Linked DNA regions of Homo sapiens. The protein of the gene in region 1 interacts with the protein of each later gene in a pairwise test. Each region holds a gene or a part of one and is shown in the gene's direction. Other genes may lie near its edges.

Region 1 (3,500 bases):
TAAGACTGTTTCTCCGAAAATATGCATGCATGTCTCAACATAAATACAGTCATGCTCTGCCTAACAATGTTTTCGTCAATGACAGACCACACATACAACATGTTCCCATAAGATTATAATACCATATTTTTACTCTACTTTTTCTATGTTTAGATACACAAATACGTTATAATTGCCTGTAGTATTCAGTACAGTAACATGCTTTACAGGTTTGTAGCCTAGGACCAATAGGCTATAGCATATAGCTTAAGTGTGTAGTAGGCTCTACCATCTAGGTGTGTGTAAGTACAGTCTGACGTTTGCATAACCATGAAATCACCTAAGGATGCATTTCTCAGAACATATCCCTATCTTTAAGTGATGCATGACTATATATTTCTTTGGTGACTTCATCTTGGTGTTTGTACTTATGACAGTATTTTAGTCTAAAAGCAGTAACGGAAGTTTACTGCCAAAACTAACCTGTGCAAACTTCACACAATTTGTGCTCCACCTTTATAATTTTTCAGGTAACTTACGACCTATTTCTCCGTGGCGTTGGCTGTTTTCTGTTGTTGTTCCTGTTCTGATCGTCTCTAATGGCCTTAAAAAGAAAAGTCTAGATCACAGTGGGGCTCTAGGAGGTATGTTTTTATTTTGAATGTTTACAGTAACTACTAAGTGCTTGCTTATATAATTTAAATTTATGTTTTCTAAATTCTGAATATATGAGACTGACTACAAATCACAGTTATATATTTTAGACAATGATAAAGTTACATCTTGCTCAGCATTCCTATTGTCAAAATTTCAGAAACTAACGTACACTTTTAGTGTAACATACAAATTAAACTCTGTGATTGATACAAAGTAGATTAATAGGATAGATGAACCTTGACTATTCTGCTCCTTTAGTTTGATTAGTCTTCTACCAGCAGAAACACTGGAGCACTCCTCCTATATGTAAAATAGAGCATTTGGAGAGAATAACTTTTGGAAATTGCTGTTAGTAATCTCAAAACAGAGCAGTCCAAACTTAGTGTTCTGGATTAATTTTCCAAAACTGAGTTGAGAACAGGATATGCATTCATTCTTTTAGCAATTTTTTTTTTCCCGAGACAGTCTTGCTCTGTTGCCCAGGCTGGAGTGCAGTGGCATGATCGGCTCACTGCAACCTCCTCCTCCTGGATTCAAGCGATTCTTGTGCCTCAGCCTCTGAGTAGAGACTACAGGTGTGTGCCACCATGCCCAGCTAATTTTTTCTGGTATTTTTATTAGAGACAGGGTTTCGCCATGTTGACCAGGCCGGTCTCGAGCTCCTGGTCTCAAGTGATCACCTGCCTGGGCCTCCCAAAGTGCTGGGATTACAGGTATGAGCCACCATGCCTGACCCCTCTTTTAGCAAATTTTTATTGAACACTTACTGGTATGTACTACTGTTCTAAAAACTTGGGATAGATCTGTAAACAAAAAGAACGTGGTGTCAGTTCTCATGGAACTTATATTCTTTAGGGCAGATAGATAATAAATAAAATATATAAAACTGTTCAGGTAATGATGAAGTTTATGAGAAAAATGAAAAGATAATTGTAAAGTGTGTATGTTGGAAGATGTAGTGCATTCTTCTGTAAATGGTGTCAGGTGCTTTTCTCTACGGAGGTCATTTTGCACTGGTATCTGAAGAAGCTAGCAATGAGATCTGACAGAATCATGTTCCAGGCTGACAGAATAACAAGTGCAAAAGTCCAGATATTTTAGAGGCTTATTTGAGAGTAAGAATAATAGGGCTCATTTGACTAGAAAATAGTAACGATAGGAAAAGAAGTGAGAGATAAAATTGAATAAACTCTAGCAATGTGCTCTCGTGGTCCTATGGTTTTGTCAATTTTGCAAAGGTCAAAACTGTTGTACTCTTTTTCTTAAAGAGGGAACCCCAAATTATATAAACTTTGGGCTCCACAAGGCCTGGATCTCCCCCTTATTTCATTTTTAGGGCATAGAGAGAATTAAATGCGATAATTTAAAGTCCTTACCTCATTGCCTGGACACATAGCCAACATTTATTCAGTGCTTGTAACTATTATTATTAGGCAGAGTTCTTCAAAATCATGCCAATTCTCTTCATAATTAAGAAATACTGTTTAAGTTATATTGTGAGATTTCTTTTCCTTTTGTGGGGTAATTGAGAATTAAAGTTAACTAGACATACTGATATTTTTATATGAATTTTATTTTACCATATAATCAATAAGTATTAGGAGTGGTTATATTTTATCTATTTAACAAATGCTTATGTCACACTTTCTATGTACCAGGCACTGCTGTTAGCACTTTGGTAGTATTAAATCATTTATAACATAATTTGAACAATCTCTGCTTAAATATAATAACATGGACTTATGCTTTGCTAAAAAAAGTTCTTTCTGGGCTGGTCGCAGTGGCTCACACCTGTAATCCCAGCACTTTGGGAAGCCAAGGCAGAAGGATCACTCGAGTCCAGGAGTTTGAGACCAGCCTGGACAGCATAATGAGACTTCACCTCTACAAAAAAAAAAAAAAAAAAAAAAAAAAAAAAAAATTAGCCTGGCGTGGTAGTGCACACCTGTAGTCCCAACTACACAGGAGGCTGATCGTGCCACTTCAGTCAGCTTGGGCAACAGAGTGATACCCTGTGTCAAAAAGAAAAAAAAAAAAAGCTCTTAGATATCATTGCCTTGGAATTTATTATTCTTATAGAAAAAAAGGTCAAGTCCTTCTTGAAATTCTGTCTTCCTTGGGCTTCTGTGCTGTATATTGTCCTGCTTCTCTGACTTTTACGATCTCTACTGTTGTTTCTTTCCTGCTGCTAGAAGGGCTGCCTTGTAGCCCTTGGACATCTGCTCCTCTCCTATGTTGATTAGAATTAAAAGATATGAAACCTAACACTGCCACCTGTTACCAGTGCAAACTTGGGCATGCTGCCTAACTCCTAGGAGACTCACTTTCTTAATCTCTTATGAAATACCTCCAATAGTAATATCTTATGGACTTATTGGTAAATCTCAAACAAGATATTATATGAGGCAACACATCTTTGTAAACTATACAAAAATGTTCATTGTTAGTGATTATGTAGTTTCAACCATATTTTTATACGTGAATGACTATTAAATTGGCATTGCCACAAACATTTCTTTCTTTCTCCGTACCTCTGCTCACATTACTTCTCCCCCTCAACCTCTCTCCTACCTCATTATATATGCTGATTATTATTATTATCATCTGCATTAATAGAGAAGTATATAGAGAGGTTTGAAGGATGAAGAGACAGTTCTGGGCAGAAAACAATGAAAACTGCAGAAAACTGAAACTAACACTTGCAGAATAAAATTAAATGAAGTATTCTCACTTAAAAAGTTTCTGGTTCTAGGCTTCTTAGTGCTTAATGAAGTATTCTTATTGAATAGGATTCAAATCTCATGAAGTCATTTATTTGCTGCCAGCCCTTAGAGTTGGAAATGATCAAATGTAGTAGTAGATGG
Region 2 (3,500 bases), on another chromosome or scaffold:
TAAATGCTTTGTATACATTGAATTTTAACAAACTAAATGAGCAGCCCGTGCCCACCTTCTGCTCTAGGATCAGCAGAGAGCATACGAAAGTCTTCAGGGGAAACCTCCTCACATTTAAGATTAGATTCTCCATTCTCTTCTGATTACTGATTATATTTTTTTTCCAATTTTGTGTCCATCTGGCCTCCAGATACCTATTTGCTTTAATCTTAGAAAAGCATTATTCTCCTTACATCCCACTTAGCAAATTATGGTAATGCTTAATTTATGTACAAAACTTTTATGTATTGTTTGGTTAATATTAAACCTAGGCTAAAAGACCACAAATTAAAATTTTAATACCCAATAAACATATGTTGAATTAAAAAGAAGTAAAAGAGCAGTAAAGTTAATGGAGTCTCATAGAGAAGAATTGTAATATCAATATTTTTACCAAGTACACACACACACACACACACACACACACACACACACACACAAAGAATGAGGAAAGAATTCATTATAGACATATGAATTCTGATGGAAGGGGCCCTGTGGGAGATTGATTCTTATTACGATATCCTGGTTGGAAGGGAATGAAGTGGGGTTATTGCTAGTGCAGTCAATGACTTGGCTTTTCTCTGGTGAATTGATTTCAGTAGGTGACTTTATTTCTTTGCATTAGGCAGCTGGAAATGTGTATTGATTTATTTCTTTTTCATTTGAGAATCAGCTTTATCAAAGATGGAGCCATAGAAATGCTGTATTTGCTGGATATGAGCAAATGCCTTAGTGCCTTTTTTTTTTTTTTTTTGCTCTGAATGTTCCTAAGATTTTTAGGAGCCAAATAAAGTTCAGCTCAATGAAATAGAAAACACACTTTGAGTGTGCATATATGCATAGTACTATTCTTTCTGCTAACTCGATTGTTAAGACCTGAAGCTCTTTTATAAAAATCTTTTTTTTTTTTTTTTTTTTTAATAAGGGATACAAAGCCCTGCAGGCCTTTTGCTCCAAGAATGTGTGTGATTGAAGAGCATGTTTTAAAAGTTAAATTCTCATTTGTGCAGTGACGGTGTTAGCGGTGGAGGGTGTTCAGGTTCTTGGCATTTTGAACAAAGAATTAGACAAAATGCACAAAGCAAGGAAGGAATGAAGCAATGAAAGTAGCGATTTATTAAAAATGAAAGTACACTCCACAGGGTGGGAGTTGGTCCTACCATAGGGGCTCAAGAGCCCGGTTACAGAATTTTCTAGGGCTTAAATACCTGCTACAGGTTTCCCATTGGCCACTTGTTGTACACCCCATGCAAATGAAGTAGTGGCCCACAATCTAGGCCGGTTGTGGTGCCTCACGCCTGTAATCCCAGCACTTTAGGAGGCTGAGGTGGGCAGATCACGAGGTCAGGAGTTCAAGACCAGTCTGGCCAACATGGTGAAACCCCGTCTCTACTAAAAATACAAAAATTAACCGAGTGTGGTGGTGCGTGCCTGTAATCCCAGCCGCTCGCGATGATGAGGCAGCAGAATTGCTTGAATCCGGGAGGCGGAGGTTGCAGTGAGCTGAGATCTATCGCACCACTGCACTCTAGCCTGGGGGACACAGCAAGACTCCATCTGGAGGCGGGGTTGGGGGCGTGGCGGAGGGGAGGGGAAGTTACACTTCTGTGCAAAGGAAGACTTGGCTGGCAGTCAGTCAGATTGGTTGGGGAAAGCAACCAATCAGAGGCTGAAATGAAGTTATAAAGTTATACTCCTATGTAAACGTCTGATTGGTTGCGGAAAGCAACCAATCAGAGGTACTTTCAGTTTTCCATTTGCCACTCAGAAAAGTGAGGGAGGGGTTTTCAAAGCGAGTAACCTCCAGTTATTTTGTTAGTTAGGTGTGTAAAGTTGGGCTTTTCTGTTTGATTTAGTTCTAGGAAGTCAGTATGAATCGGCCTTAGGTTCCCTGCCTCCAGACCCTATTGTCTTGCCTCAACAGTGCAATGGCTCTTTGCTAAGACTGTGTTCTTCTTAAGATTTTAATTTTGTTTTAAATGTTGTTTGTCCTGCTCCAAAATTAGTTTTTTAATTATGGAATTATTTTTTGTTTTGTTATTACAGGCAGTGTTAGTTCTATGGTTTTTGGCTTGATTGTTTCTTAGAAATTATGTAACCAACTCTTTCATATCATAGATGAGAAATTGAGGGATAAAGAAATCGATTTGTCATAAATTTAATTGAAATATTATTAGAAGAATAGTTTTTACTTATAGTACTTGAAATTCTCTGTTAATATTAAGACTTAGATAATTTTGAATATCATGATGTTAAAATTATAAATGACACCTCTAATATTGAGATCTTTAAGATAAAACAGACATAAGATACATGACAAATAGATGGTAAAGGTGAAGAAATATACAAAAGGTCAAAAATTCTTATAGTTTATATTCTTAACATTTGTTCTAAATTTTAAAAATTACTAAAATTACAAGACATATTTCTTAAAATAAAAAAATTACTCTAGGTTTATTATGAGACAACAATTTATAGCTGTCATTTATCTTAACAGGTTGAAGAAATATGGAGATCAACACAAAACTGCTCATCAGTGTTACCTGTATCAGCTTTTTCACCTTTCAGCTTCTTTTCTACTTTGTAAGTTACTGGTTTTCAGCAAAAGTTTCTCCAGGTTTCAATAGTCTCAGCTTCAAAAAGAAGATTGAATGGAACTCAAGGTAAAGCATATGAAAATGTAATTGATGACAAGAAACTAGTTTATGAGATAAAATTATTTAAAATATTTCAAAAAAGTATTTCATTTAGGATCTAATGTAAGGCCAAATTTTTATTTGATCTTAGAAATAAAAGGAAAAACAAGTAGATGATCTCATGCAAAAAAAAGTTTAAGAATTCATATATTGAAAGATGTTAGGAGAAATTTACTTAAGTTTCTGAGGAAGTGTGTGAAGATGAAGTAGACTCCAGCTGACTGTGGATGAATACTAGTACTTTCGTGTTCTTCTTTGAAATATTTATAACAAACATATTCTTTGGAAACAAAGATGGAAGAAAAAATTAGTTGTACTTTTGAGTAGCTTATACCATACAGCATTGGCCAACTTAGCCAGACCTGGGGCAGTTAGACTCTACACATCAGGGAACAAAGTGTACAGTCAGTGCATATGAATCTTTTAATGAACTTTGCATTATAATTTAGAGCCCTCCAGCATTTATTATTTTGTTATATAATTTTAAAGTAAAAATTTCTTTTTAGTTTTTTTTTTTTAAACAGAAAAGTAAATGGAGAAAGAATTAGACATCTATTGATATAGAAATCTGCTGGAGTTTTATTTTTTATTTTTATTTTATTTGTTTATTTATTTTTTTGAGACAGAGTCCCGTTCTGTCGCCCAGGCTGGAGTGCAGTGGTGAAATCTTGGCTCGCTGCAACCTCTGCCTCCCAGGTTCCAGTGATTCTCCTGCCTCAGCTTCCTGAGTAGCTGGGATTACAGGCATGCGCCACCATGCCAAGC
Region 3 (4,194 bases), on another chromosome or scaffold:
TGTTGATGTCTTCTGTGTTGAGTGAGAGACAGGATAAATGGTTTGAGAGTTTTTTCCAAACAGCCCTCCTCCTAATGCAGCTTGTTTTCTGAATCAGAGGGTCCTGTCTTGAAGGGGGCAAACCCACCCGTGCTTTCGTCCCACAGTTCTTACTGAGCCCCTGCCATGGCAGGGATGGCCCCAGGTGCCGGCTGCAGAGACAGAACCCCCTGCCCTCACCGCCAACATTCCAGAGGGGAAGATGCCCTGCCTGTGCCCCACGTAAGACCCAGAGGCAGGGACTCCCCCGGGCCACAGCCTACTGGAGGCTCCTGTCCCCAGAGACAGCTGGGCCATCGCCCCCAAAGCTGTGGAAGCCCCACCCACGATGCCATCATACCACGGCCAGGACATCTCGTGACACACACAGCCCCAGCCTCAGCCTCCATACACACACACACACGCACCACACACACTCACTCATGCAAAACACACACACAGCCACATTGACTGCACCCCTAGATTTGAGACAGGGGTGTTACAGGTGTCTGTCAGCCCCAGCCCCCTCCTGACCACATGGCCACCTGCCCACCCTCACATTTCCGCACACCCTCCCCCTACTCCCGTGTGGGGTTCAGAAGACCCCTCCCTGGTGCTCGCCCTGTCACCCAGAAAGGAAACGCACTGTCAACTGGAGAACAGGCCGGTGGCAGAGCCCCAGCGCCCACAGCCCCTCGGAGAGGGCCTGGCGGGAGGAGAGGCACCCACCGATGGCAGAGCCTCAGTGCCCTCGCAGAAGCCAGCACCCACAACCTCCCACCTCCCAACCCTTGCCGGTCTCCCCACCCCCGCCTGAGGGATGGCCAAGGAACAGCCCAGCCTGGAGCGGGAAGCAGGGACAAGATGACCTCAGGAATCCCAGGCTGCGGGGGTGCCTGCGTCCTCCCCTCCCGAGCTCCACTCCGCAGGCGAGACCCCCAACACTGCTCCCCGACACTCTCCGAGGCACCCCTCCTCCGTGCTCACACCCAAACACGTCTGCTCACCCGTGGGCTTCCCACCCCGAACACAACGAGGACTGTCCAGGTGTCAGTGACGGTCACCCCGACCTGGTCCCCTGTCCGGCCTCGCCAGGTCAGCACCCGCCGCGCGCACAGCAGGGCCGGGTGGAAGGAGGCCGGGCCTGGCCGTGGCTCAGGCGCCACCTCACTGGGGAAACTGGGAGGTGGTCTCAGCCCCCTTCTGGGCCTCAGCTTCCCCATCTATCCCAAGGAGCCGGGGTAGGCCTGGGCGGCGCGGGGACCCCCACCGCGGGCTCGCCGACTCCGCCCGCCGGAGGCCCCTCCCGCGTCCCGCCCCTGCCCCCGCCCCGGGGCCGCGCGGCTGCCTGGGAGGCTCCGGGCCAGCCGCGGTCCAGAGCGCGCGAGGTTCGGGGAGCTCGGCCAGGCTGCTGGTACCTGCGTCCGCCCGGCGGTGAGTCCGCGGGCCCCCGGCCGGGACGCCCCCGCCACCTGCGCGCACGCGCTCAGACCCGGCGGCCTCGGCTGCGGTGCACGCGGCCCCGGCTCAGCCACGCGCGGCGGAAGGCGCCCTGCGGGGGCCGGGGCGGGAGAGGGTGGGAGAGAGCAAGAGGGGCGCACGGGGAGGCGCAGGAGAGGGGCTGGGGCTGCCGGTGGGTTGGTCCCCAGAGAGCTGAGCTTCTCCTCCCATCCCCCGCAGGCCTCCCCGAATGTTTCCAAAGATCTGGGGCGGGAGCGGGCGGAGACTGCCGCCAGGAGCCTCCCGGCCGCCCCAGGGCTGCGCAGCCACTGGAGCCCATCACCCAACTCCAGACGCTCCTGGCTCCTCTACGTGGGCCGGGAGGGACAGCCTTGAGGACTAGGGGAGGGGGCACGGGACCTTGCAGAGCTCCTGGCCGGAAAGGGAGGATTGACCGCCCCCGGCATATCACCCCGGAGCACTGGAACCCGCCCCCGCTTCTTGTTTTGGCACTGGTGGTGCTTGCGGTGAGGTCCAAGGAGCCCAGCCTCCCTGAGTGGACCGCCGGGCCCCTCCCCGTTCCGGGACACAGGAGAGGCTCCCGCCCCTTGCTGGCTGGGCAGCCCCTAGATACCTGGCTCCCAGGGGCCAGCTTCCCTGAGCCTGGGGATGAGCCATGAGCCTGCAGCCTGGGCCCCAGGGGCGCCCCCCACGGCCTGCCGGCTGGCTCCCTCCGGGCTCCATGGCCCACCCGGCCTTCCTAATTGCCTTCGGCTCCCACCGGTGCCTTAGCTCAGCCTGGTGGCCCAGCGGGTTGGGTGCCACCCAGTGAGCAGGTGGCGGCACCAGCTGGACCTGTTTGTGGCCCTGTATGCTAGGACTTCCTCAGAGACAGCTCAGGGACCCCCCCACACCAGAACCTCACTTTAGGGGGGTGGGGGGAAAAGGAATTGGAGATCCTTCCTCCTCGGGCTACTCCCTGGAGGCGGGGATAGGCCCCAGCCGGACTTGGCACTGTTTTTGGCCACCTGGGGCTCCCACTCCCAACCCCAGGATGTCAGCCCAGGTCTCACTGTCCTGGCCTGCTGCTCTCCCCTTAGGGCCTCTGCGGGCCCCTCTCCAGATCTGTTCTCTGAGGCATCCTCCTTACCCCCAGTGCCCAGCACTAGCTCCCCAGGCCCGGGATGTCCCTCCCACTCCTCTGCCCACGGCTGTCCCTGACAGAAGGCAGCAGCCTCCCCCTCCAACACCATGCACTCACAAAACAGAGAATCACGACCCCAGCTGGGTGTGTTCCAGATTCTTTCTCCAGCAGTGCAGAGGGTCCTGTGCAGAGGCCGAGGAGCAGTACAGCGACCCATCTGGCCCTTTCCTGCTGGTGGGACCAGTGGCACGCAGCCTTGTCTCTCGGAGCCCATTTCCCAGCCACAGAATGGGGAGTAGCAGATACTGAGTGGGGTGCTTTCCTCGGAACTGAGTAACATCAGGAATGGGGAGTGCTTTCCCCCTCAGCCATGCCCCACCTGGCCCCAGGTCTCCATGTGAGGGGAGCTGCCTGGGCTCAAAACACTGAGCCATCCCAAGGAAAATTCTAGATACAGATTAGCTAATATACACTGACAGATACACATATAGATGTGTATATAGATTTCTCTTTTTTTTGAGACAGGGTCTCACTCTGTTGCCCAGGCTGCAGTGCAGTGGCATGATCATAGTTCACTTCAGTCTTGAACTCCCTGGCTCAAGAGATCCTCCCACCTCAGCCTCCCAAGTAGCTGACCACAGGCACGTACCACGCCCGGCTAATTTTTGTATTTTTTGTAGAAACAGGAGGTCTCACTGTGTTGCCCAGGGTGGTCTCAAACCCCTGGCCTCATATGATCCTCCTGCCTTGGCCTCACATAGCATGGAGATTACAGGCGTGAGCCCCTGTACCCAGCCCCAGACTAGCTAATATTATGACTGATCACCATTCCCCATTCCCCATTCCCCCACCCCAGGACCACTGGCAGAGGCCACTCACTCTGCCTTCTTTTCTGTGGTTCTGAGAAGGCTGCTGAGTTTCCTCCTCTTGCCTGTGCAGCCCCCTCCTGCCAGGTTTCAGGAGGGAGATAGCCTAGAGCATGTCTGCACTGAGTGAGGAGTGGGTCAGGAGAGAAGCAGGGAAGTCCTTGTGTGCTGGCAGGTCCCTTCCCCTCTGCTGTCTGTGTCCTCATCTGCAAAGTGGGGGTGCATGGTCTTGGGGAGGAGTGAGGCACCACCCGGCCCCCTAACCAGTGTGTCTCTCCAGAGCAGGACAGGCTGCTTTGGTTTGTGACCTCCAGGCAGGACGGCCATCCTCTCCAGAATGAAGATCTTCTTGCCAGTGCTGCTGGCTGCCCTTCTGGGTGTGGAGCGAGGTGAGGTGCCCTTGGGGACCCCAGACCTTTGTCCAGCTGTGCCCTGCTCCACTCCCTCTCCACCCCTCTCCCCTGAGCAGACGCCCCAGGGGTCCTTCCAGGCCGCTCCCAGCAGAGGGCTCACCCGGCCTGGCCACACTGTCTCACTGTGTGTTTGAGTGTCGCTTGACCTGCTCGACGGCCAGGGTGGGGTGTCACTGTCTTTGCTCTGCCTTCAGCCCAGGGCCTGGTATACAGTAATTTCTCAGTAAATGTCCACTGGGGTCAGGCCTGGGAGGGACACTGGAGGCTTCCCTGAGACAGGTGTGTCCTCCTTCCGCAGCCAGCTCGCTGATGT
Region 4 (3,368 bases), on another chromosome or scaffold:
TTAGTCATAAGGTCCTACCCAATTCCAAAGGTGGATGGAAGACGTTAATTTATCTCAATGCTCAGGAACAATACTTAGTATTGTCTCTGTCACAAAAGGAAAGAGGATACATTCCCAACCTAAGTAACTGAGATTCAGAATTAACCCTGAAATAAGCAGCTACAAACTATAGAGCACTAAAACCAAAAATAATCATAGAAGAAAAGAATATACAAAATTTTGTATAATCTGTTGTTCAGTTAATTTGGAAAGTAACTTTGCTGCCATCTTTCAAACCACCTTAAGCAAAATATTCAGAAACTTCAATAACTAACTAGTATCACCAGTCTTGGCTTGATAAGTAAAGTTACTAGGTATTTGTCGGTTCAACTTACGATACGTTAAACTCTGGAGGTTTAAAAAAAAGTTGCTTAAAAAAAAAAAACAGAATGCAGCTTATTATTTTCCTGAGTTCAGTGTAAGCATAGTTACATTAATGCCGTATGAGTTTAAAATATTGTAAATAAAAAGCACCTTTTTTCAGCTATAACACAAACTCCTCAATAGAGAAATATGGGATATTAGTGCATTAAAATCAACCCCTTTTGAACCCATTCATAATTTATAGCTACCTACATAGTTCTTCCAGCCATACCATGTCTATCTGTATCATTAAATATCCTCTCTGTTTTTCAGGTATTTTAACTGAACCACTACTGGCTGGGTTCTTAATAAAAACAAAAAATTAAGAAGGTAAATAAATTCAGTATCCTAGCCAAAAAGCAGAGTATCTGTTTCAGGAACATAAGACAGTATACTTTCCATTTCATTTTACACACACACATGATGTCTTTTACATAAGAATGAACCTGGCTGCCTGAAGATAGCTTGTTTTGATATCACAGAATGGCCTCTAGGGATCAAGTTGTTTCCCTTGAAAACTTAAAAAGGGAAATTCAGTCTCTTATCCGGCTTGCTTCTCGACTTCAGACTTCAGGAGCTTCTGCATCTGAATCTGTGTCACCCTGCAATTTGTGTCTCTGAAACATAATCCTGTCTCACAGACTCCCATTGCATTGGGATTGGTCAGAAGGAAGCAGAGGAGGAGCCACCGTGAACATGTTTTTTTTCTCTCCACACATCATAAAAATCAGCAGCTGGCGCCTACAGCCCCTAACACTCAAAGCAACGCTCAGGCTGGAAACAGAAGCTTCCGAGAGGCAGCCGATGTGAGCATGTGCGCACAGATTCGTCTCCCAATGGCATGGCAGCTTCAAGGAAAATTATTTTGAACAGACTTGAATGCATAAGATTAAAGTTAAAGCAGAAGTGAGAACAAGAAAGCAAAGAGCAGACTCTTTCAACTGAGAATGAATATTTTGAAGCCCAAGATTTTAAAGTGATGATGATTAGAGTCGTACCTAAAAGAGACTAAAAACTCCATGTCAAGCTCTGGACTTGTGACATTTACTCACAGCAGGCATGGCAATTTTAGCCTCACAACTTTCAGACAGATAAAGACTTGGAGGAAATAACTGAGACGACTCCCTGACCCAGGAGGTTAAATCAATTCAGGGGGACACTGGAATTCTCCTGCCAGCATGGTGAACTCCACCCACCGTGGGATGCACACTTCTCTGCACCTCTGGAACCGCAGCAGTTACAGACTGCACAGCAATGCCAGTGAGTCCCTTGGAAAAGGCTACTCTGATGGAGGGTGCTACGAGCAACTTTTTGTCTCTCCTGAGGTGTTTGTGACTCTGGGTGTCATCAGCTTGTTGGAGAATATCTTAGTGATTGTGGCAATAGCCAAGAACAAGAATCTGCATTCACCCATGTACTTTTTCATCTGCAGCTTGGCTGTGGCTGATATGCTGGTGAGCGTTTCAAATGGATCAGAAACCATTGTCATCACCCTATTAAACAGTACAGATACGGATGCACAGAGTTTCACAGTGAATATTGATAATGTCATTGACTCGGTGATCTGTAGCTCCTTGCTTGCATCCATTTGCAGCCTGCTTTCAATTGCAGTGGACAGGTACTTTACTATCTTCTATGCTCTCCAGTACCATAACATTATGACAGTTAAGCGGGTTGGGATCATCATAAGTTGTATCTGGGCAGCTTGCACGGTTTCAGGCATTTTGTTCATCATTTACTCAGATAGTAGTGCTGTCATCATCTGCCTCATCACCATGTTCTTCACCATGCTGGCTCTCATGGCTTCTCTCTATGTCCACATGTTCCTGATGGCCAGGCTTCACATTAAGAGGATTGCTGTCCTCCCCGGCACTGGTGCCATCCGCCAAGGTGCCAATATGAAGGGAGCGATTACCTTGACCATCCTGATTGGCGTCTTTGTTGTCTGCTGGGCCCCATTCTTCCTCCACTTAATATTCTACATCTCTTGTCCTCAGAATCCATATTGTGTGTGCTTCATGTCTCACTTTAACTTGTATCTCATACTGATCATGTGTAATTCAATCATCGATCCTCTGATTTATGCACTCCGGAGTCAAGAACTGAGGAAAACCTTCAAAGAGATCATCTGTTGCTATCCCCTGGGAGGCCTTTGTGACTTGTCTAGCAGATATTAAATGGGGACAGAGCACGCAATATAGGAACATGCATAAGAGACTTTTTCACTCTTACCCTACCTGAATATTGTACTTCTGCAACAGCTTTCTCTTCCGTGTAGGGTACTGGTTGAGAATATCCATTGTGTAAATTTAAGCCTATGATTTTTAATGAGAAAAAATGCCCAGTCTCTGTATTATTTCCAATGTCATGCTACTTTTTTGGCCATAAAATATGAATCTATGTTATAGGTTGTAGGCACTGTGGATTTACAAAAAGAAAAGTCCTTATTAAAAGCTTAACAATGTCTCCTTCGTGTTATTCATAAGCATTGGACACTTTGCGTGCTTTCGTAACATAGAAATCAGAGCCTCATTAAACATATTCTAATAAATGCTTTATTATATTATATTATCCACCATTGAAATGTAGAGAGTTCATTCTAGCAGTTAAGGGAAAATATTTAAAGAATAGATGTATAATCATTTTTAAAAATATCATCACTGAAATTTCAAGTAATTTAATTAAAGGTTTGTTCATCCTCCCTGTGCAGAAGTAGAAATGAAGCTCCTCTAGAGAGAAAAACAGGTGCTGAAAAAAGAGAGATGCTGAGTTAGAAAACTATGTGTACTTCTCAGACACAGAAAGATTCATCTCCCTTAGCAAACAGCCTGATATTTCACACAGGCAATTCGGTTTGGGGTGGGTGGGAAAAGGCAGCTATAGGGATGAAAGTGTCCTGGAAAACCTAAGTTGCCATGTCAAGCTAAATTTCCTGTTACCAAATTATCCCTAAACAATATTAATAA
Region 5 (3,500 bases), on another chromosome or scaffold:
AACTTACACAAATTTCTTTGTACTCCTAAACACATGCCACAGTATTCTGGCTTCCAGTTTGTGGATTCCTAGATTATATATATAATGGATTTCAGAGGTCCAATTTATGTAAGCCTCTTTACTTTAGATCGTAGTCTTTGTTCCCATTAGAGCAAAATAATGAACTGCAGATGGGTTTCTTTTAAGAGGACTTTTGAAAGAACATATACATAAATCTTCTTGATTAAATTTTATACTTAGAGGACTGAGACTGGTAAGGTGTTGGATAGGGTAGCAGTTTCTTTTTCTTTCATAAACTCATTTTTATGCTTTTTTTGCCCCCTAGGCAAGAAAAATCTCGTTGGGAAGTCCTCCAACAAGAACAACGGCTAATGGAAGAGAAAAATAAACGTAAAAAAGCTCTTTTGGCTAAAGCTATTGCAGAAAGGTGAGGCACCTGAACCAGGAGAGGCTGTTTGTAACCTGTAACCAGTTGTGTCATGTGTTATATTTGTTTTCCCATGTCTCTTTTAATAAACTGATATTTTTTCTTCAACCATTACTTTTAAGACTAACTAAACAAATTATGCTTTATAAGTGATACTGAAATACTAGTTATAATTTATTAAAGAGAACTTTTTAAGCATAGAGCATATTAAATTTGTAAATATAGTTGCAGTTTTAAAGACCTTCATTAGTGCTCCCAGTTTTAACCATCTACACATTCATAAGGGAAGCAGTAAATAGCTATCAGTATATGTAAATTAGCAACAAATGCAAGTTTTAATTTTTATGTGGGGAGGCCTTAATCATTTGATGTGTAGAGGAATAAGGTTTTCTACATAAGTGACATACTCCCATGAATCTTAATTGGATTTCCTATGGGCATTTTTCTTAAATAATTTGCCCCGCCTCCACAAGTAGAAGATACATGATATAGTTTAACTTTTTATTGATGACTCAGGGTCATTATTATGAGCACTGTGTGAGATTCAATTTTTCTTTCACCTTCCAGTGTCTATCAGCAGCCCCTTCACATTTACTGCATTGTACCAGCCGCACACAACAACATTCCCATTGGAATCATTCTTCCCATCCCCCACCACTCTTGCTGAGTTTGTAGTTTCTGTCTAATCTCCTGTGGCCTTAGGAAACTAAACTTAGTCAATATATCCATGGTTGTGAATAGTGAAAACTAAATGCAAGGAAGTACATTTTCTTTTTAGACTTCCAGAAAAGTCTGTCAAACTGTTACTGCTTGAAGCTAGAGTATGTGTAGGGGCAGGAGAAGAGGGAAGAAGGTGATGGGTATAAGAGTAGTTCAGAATTTTGTCTGCCAGAGGAGTGAGTGTAGTTGAGAAATGGTGATTTTTCTTTTTCTACTACTGGTACACCTTGATCTTTCTTGAAGCATAGGAAATAATGCAACTCACTGAGTTACTATGTTTCAAAGGAAAAAACCAGCAGATAAAAGAGTAGTGCCCTCTTTTTTTTTTTTTTTGGTAAGTGATTATTTAAAAATAATTAAAGCATTTTAGTAGTCTTCAATTTCTAAGAGATGGGAAGGCTGTTTTCTGTGGTTTTACAAAAAGATGTACAGGCTCAGCAGTTCTTCTCATAAGTGCTTTTGATTTTAGACAGCACCAGTATAAACAGAAGTGTAAGGAAATACAACGTTTGAACTATTAATAAATGGACAATGAAGTACTTGACGTAAAAGAATCATACTGTTAAGTGAAGTTTTGTAGGCAGAAAGGAAGGGTAAATGCCTAAGAGTAGAAATCAAGAGAATGTGCTATGTAACATGGTGGATTTATGTGGGGATTTTTCTTCTTCCTTCACAATGTGTGTGAAAATTTGAAATGAGTGAAATCATGATTAAAGGGTTGCTTTTTTATTTGTTTGTTCCCTTTCTTAAGTATATATTGTACTTGGGAGAGGGGATTGAGAAATTATGAGGTTGGATGTGCTTTTAAATAAGGAAAATGAGTGTTTTGATGTTCAGCTCCATAAAGAATTTTCGTAACTAGTAGTTTTCCTAGAGAACAAGAATCAAAGCAATAAAAGTTTGGGGAAATGGGTCCCAAGAAAGTTAAAACTAAGTGGATGTTCTCAGATATATAAAGAGGTGTGGTTTAGTATAGACATCTATCTGTTCTTAATGTCAGGTAAGTATCAGACAAATGAAAATGGGCTTAGCAAGAGGAAGAATTAAAGACTAGAAATTTGGAAAGCTCTGTTGAATGTTTCAATGTAAAGGGAACACAGATATATTCTTTTAGTGTTTGTTCTCTTTACAGAATGAATATCAATCTAAAATGAACTATTTGCTGAGTTTTTTTAGACTTATTTGTTACTTTATGAAACATGCAAATATAAAATTTCAAAAACTCAAATGTTAACCAGCTTTTACTTTATTTCAATTTTTCTGATTTTTTTCTAACTTTTAAAATATAAATTATAAATGTATATGCAGTATCTTGCTTTTTCACTTACATTGTATATGGACACATGGTTTTAAAATGTTCTTATTTTCCCACTCACATACCTGATTTTCTAGATCCAAAAGAACTCAGGCAGAGACCATGAAACTAAAGCGGATCCAGAAGGAGTTGCAGGCTTTAGATGACATGGTGTCAGCTGACATTGGAATTCTCAGGAACCGGATTGATCAGGCCAGCTTAGACTATTCATACGCTCGGTGAGTTGGGGAAATTGAATCTGAACAAGGAGTATGATTTAATTAATGTTTATTGCCAGCTGTTCCAGGGGCTTTTATGTATATCATCATTGAAGCCTCAAAACAACCCCATTCAGTGCTGTATTTATTCTTCTTTTGTGCTAATTCAAGTGTCTCCTCTTCAGTGAAGTCTTCCTTAACTCTGCCCTACTAGTTAACCTTGTTCGTGTGCCATTAGAGCAGTTCTTGCATTATTTATTTACGTTTTAGTCTTTGCTGCGAAACCCTCAGCTATTTAATGTTTGGAAGTGTTTTTGCTCATCTTTCAGCATCTAGCAAAGTAAATATCTGAGTGGTTTCGCCAAAACTGTTACTCTGACACCAAGTCTGTGTTCTTTCCATTAAAATTTTTGATATCTGATATAGTCCTATAGGATTGAAGTCTAGTCCTCACTTTAGCTTTCATCAGAGTAAGAGGATCTAGTTTAGTTTTTAAAAGCTTATGAATATTTTAAGCATATCCTCTGTCTTGGAAATTTGAAATATTTTCTCTTTTTTTTTCCTTTCAATTATACTCTGTATGAAATGGTTTAATATATGTTTCCTTGGTTTCAACCATTGGCATTTTTTAAAAGAGAAAAAATACCATGGAGTATTTTTAAAATGAACTAACACATGTAATGAATTACATGGACTTTGCAGACAGATAAAAGGGCAAAAAAATATGTCCAATTTCAGGGTTTTCAGCCCTTTCAACATTGCTTTAATCATCCTGGTTTGTCTTTTTTCACAAGGGAATGCTGTGTTAATGACTCAGTTTTCTATCTTACTCTGTTACACT
Region 6 (3,500 bases), on another chromosome or scaffold:
GTTATGCGATTTACAGCTCTAGAGAAAAACATTCAAGTTAGTTATTCATGGGAATAAAATAGGTGCATGTTCTCAATGAAAAAGTTAGAAAAATGTCTTGAATATGGTGACTGTTTACATTATAGAATTGTAATTAACCCTAACTTAATCTCTCAGTGCCCCTGTACTCTTGTCTTCAGTGTCTCGAGATATTTCAGCAAATGGCTACCATCGCCCCGTACGTACCTCTCCAGTTACATTCTTGCCTGCTTTAGGAGTGGACACACAGAGCAGCCTCCAAGCTGCCCTGATAAATTTCACGTGTATAATATGGAAGACAAATGTTTCCTTAACATATTTATTTTCTGTGTATGAAGTTTTTCATTAACTTTTCATCCCAAGATAACCACCTCTGTTTTTAGTGCGCTTTATTTCTTGTTTTTGTTCTGTAGGGTCTCTGTAAAACATAATGTGTGACATAAGTAATGAAGCATAATTTTCAAAAGCCACTTGCAGGAGTCAGTATTGTTTCTTTGGTTTTTATACCATGTATTTTTTGTTGGGACTCAAAGGACAGTGATCCGTATTTAGTCAAATTAGGAAATTAAGTTGAAACATCTTGATTCCTAAAAAGTGTATTTTATAAAACATTTACTGATTAATGAATTTTATGGTATTTTGTTCTCTCTATAGATAAGCGTGTGGAAAATTGGCCTCTGATGCAGTCTCCTTGGCCTACACTAAGTATAAGCACTCTTTATCTCCTGTTTGTGTGGCTGGGTCCAAAATGGATGAAGGACCGAGAACCTTTTCAGATGCGTCTAGTGCTCATTATCTATAATTTTGGGATGGTTTTGCTTAACCTCTTTATCTTCAGAGAGGTATGTTTTTAAGATCACTTTAATAATTTTCCAAGGTTATTGGAAATTTAAAAATGAGAATGTGTAAAACCATCATTGTAATATTTTACCCAGACATAACTGTTAGCTACTCTAAAAGTACATTTTTGACATTTTTCACTTTTGAATAACAAAAATATTAAACATGAGGTATAGGAAAGTTGTTTAAAGTGGAATTTTGAATAAGACCAACTGGATTCTAAAGTAACCCTTATTAGCTGTTCTGGCATTGAAAGTTATTTAACTTTTCTTAGCCTCGTTTTCCCCACTTAAATACCTACCATCTCAGGTTATTATCGGAGTAAAGTAAGATAATTTTTGCATAGTGTTTGGCACGTATTAAGCACTCAGTAAACAGTAGCAGCTATTTATTTATAATTCTTATTCAGTAGTTTCTGGTTTGGTAACTGATCAAAATATGCCAATTTCAAGTAAATCCTATTACATAATGTTGTATTTTGGGCTGGAATTAAAATGAATTAACTGCCATATAGCTGTTGTTACTAATCATTATATACTTTTCTGGGCACTAGCAAATTCTCCACAACATTTTCAAAGGAAATCCTAAAGGCTAGATTGACACAGCCATTTTTTAAATTGCATATGTATAAAGAATTTGTTTCCTAAGAGACTCATTAAAATTCTGTATGAAGCCAGAGAACTGACTAGTAATGCTAGGAAAATAAACAATAACTCTTCTTAGAAAAAGAAATATTTCTTTACTTGAAAACTTAGCCTCGAGTCTCAACTTCATGAACACTTTAATTTATTTGGATACCTGTACCTAATTTGTTAGATGCAAACCACTCTGGATCAAACATAGAAACCAGTTAAGGTAGGACAACTTTGAAATCTGAGTCCTAGCAATAAAAATTTCTCTTAATACTGTGAAGTATTTAATAGATAGAGTCAATGTTCAGTATAAAATTTACATGTGATTTTTAATTTAGATTTTAATTATAGAACAAATTAATGCACAGTAACTTCTAGCAATCGGAATGCATGAAATTTTTAATGCATTTGAAATTTTTAAAGAAAATATTGTGTTTAAAATAATTTGAAAGGCTACATTTTGTATATAATTGTGTTTTTAATGCTGTGTTTACTAAAACTTTACTACAAATATTATTACTCTTTTTCCAGTTATTCATGGGATCATATAATGCGGGATATAGCTATATTTGCCAGAGTGTGGATTATTCTAATAATGTTCATGAAGTCAGGGTAAGTACATTAAAAATACTCTTAATCAGTAAAAGTGGTTTGATTTTTATAGGCCCCAGTCTGTGAAAATATAGAATGTACTTTTTTTTAAGAGACAGTTTCTTTAACATTCATTTAGAGACAGTTTCTTGCTCTGTCCCCCAGACTGAAGTGCAGTGGTATGATCATAGCTCACTGCAGCCTCAAACTCCTGGGCTCAATTGATCCTTCTGCCTCAGCCTCCCAAGTAGCTGGGACTACGGGTGTACCCCACCATGCCTAGATATTTTTTTACTTTTTGTAGAGACAGGGTCTTGCTATGTTGCCCAGTCTGGTCTTGAACTCCCAGCCGCAAGGGATCCTCTTGCCTCAGCCTCCCAAAGTGCTGAGATTACAGGTGTGAGCCACCACACCTGGCAAAATGTACTTTAATATGATAGTGAAATTATACTAGATTGTTATGAGTCAGTAAAACTATGCTTTTTTAAAAAGTACTTAATTTAAAATTTGTTTTTGTATCTCAAAAATGTTTTTTATTTTGCAGCATGAGTGAATATGCATTGAATTACTAGAATGCAGTACTTGTTAAAGCAAAGAAGTCTCATGTTTATTTTAAAGACATTATTTTAGATTTTTGTTTGTTTGTTTTTGCTCAAGAGTAGAAACTCTTAGAGTCCAAGTTATGTGTTAAGAAAGTGAGGAAAAGTAAATGTTTTGTGAAGTGTGGAATATTTAGGAAATTAGGCATAGAACAATTTGTATTGGCATAAACTCAGTTTTTTTATATTTGCAGAAAAATAAAACACTAGTAACAAGATGTTATATTTTATTTTCCATTCACTTACATGAGTAAAATTAACATTAAGCAAAAGAAACAACAGATTACCTTATTCTATTACGTATTTATTGAACTCTTCTTATATACTGTGGTTCATACTAGAAATTACATATAAAACATAACATGTTTTATGTTACCTATAGTATATGTAGTAATAATATCTAGTGGCTTCCCTTGAGAAAAATAGTTTCCTGGCATGGGGAGTGGACAATATATAAATATCAGTATTCATCAAGACTGGAGACAAAATTGGTTTAATGTACTTAACAATTTTATGTACGTATCTTCATTTCCCTATTAGAAGACTTATGGACTGATGAAAAATCACCTGTCTTGGTTGTCATGTTGGTTTTATTTATTCATTAAATATGTATTGAGCATCTACTATATGTTGGTACTGGGGACAGGGGTGAAAAGCCCTGCCTTTGTGGGGCTGGCATTTTAGTGAGGGTGAGAAGGCAGACAGCAGCCATGTAAACAAATGACTAAGGAGGAAATAAAACCTAGAAGGTGACTGAGAGAAAATGAGAGACTACTCAGATGTATTGGCTATGAAAAATTTTCTTCTGATAACTATTGCC

What was found.
Region 2: the proteins of TMEM19 (region 1) and TLCD4 interact in binary tests that used the Homo sapiens proteins (3 or more experiments, as listed by UniProt).
Region 3: the proteins of TMEM19 (region 1) and LY6E interact in binary tests that used the Homo sapiens proteins (3 or more experiments, as listed by UniProt).
Region 4: the proteins of TMEM19 (region 1) and MC4R interact in a two-hybrid assay, tested with the Homo sapiens proteins (one large-scale study listed by BioGRID and IntAct).
Region 5: the proteins of TMEM19 (region 1) and GORAB interact in binary tests that used the Homo sapiens proteins (3 or more experiments, as listed by UniProt).
Region 6: the proteins of TMEM19 (region 1) and ELOVL4 interact in binary tests that used the Homo sapiens proteins (3 or more experiments, as listed by UniProt).

What each region holds. Positions count from the first base shown.
Region 1 is NC_000012.12:71,689,082-71,692,581, forward strand, and holds part of TMEM19 (transmembrane protein 19), read left to right. Parts: intron 1-509; coding exon 510-623; intron 624-3,500.
Region 2 is NC_000001.11:95,141,355-95,144,854, forward strand, and holds part of TLCD4 (TLC domain-containing protein 4), read left to right. Parts: intron 1-2,536; 5' UTR 2,537-2,547; coding exon 2,548-2,702; intron 2,703-3,500. Other genes in the region: TLCD4-RWDD3 (TMEM56-RWDD3 protein), read left to right, coding at 2,548-2,702.
Region 3 is NC_000008.11:143,017,135-143,021,328, forward strand, and holds the start of LY6E (lymphocyte antigen 6E precursor), read left to right. Parts: upstream 1-1,394; 5' UTR 1,395-1,452; intron 1,453-3,748; 5' UTR 3,749-3,805; coding exon 3,806-3,857; intron 3,858-4,179; coding exon 4,180-4,194. UniProt on the Homo sapiens protein: GPI-anchored cell surface protein that regulates T-lymphocytes proliferation, differentiation, and activation.
Region 4 is NC_000018.10:60,370,562-60,373,929, reverse strand, and holds MC4R (melanocortin receptor 4), read left to right. Parts: upstream 1-1,154; 5' UTR 1,155-1,580; coding exon 1,581-2,579; 3' UTR 2,580-2,868; downstream 2,869-3,368.
Region 5 is NC_000001.11:170,542,166-170,545,665, forward strand, and holds part of GORAB (RAB6-interacting golgin), read left to right. Parts: intron 1-325; coding exon 326-427; intron 428-2,539; coding exon 2,540-2,680; coding exon of another isoform or gene 2,681-2,684; exon of another isoform or gene 2,685-3,500.
Region 6 is NC_000006.12:79,923,554-79,927,053, reverse strand, and holds part of ELOVL4 (very long chain fatty acid elongase 4), read left to right. Parts: intron 1-672; coding exon 673-860; intron 861-2,021; coding exon 2,022-2,102; intron 2,103-3,500. UniProt on the Homo sapiens protein: Catalyzes the first and rate-limiting reaction of the four reactions that constitute the long-chain fatty acids elongation cycle.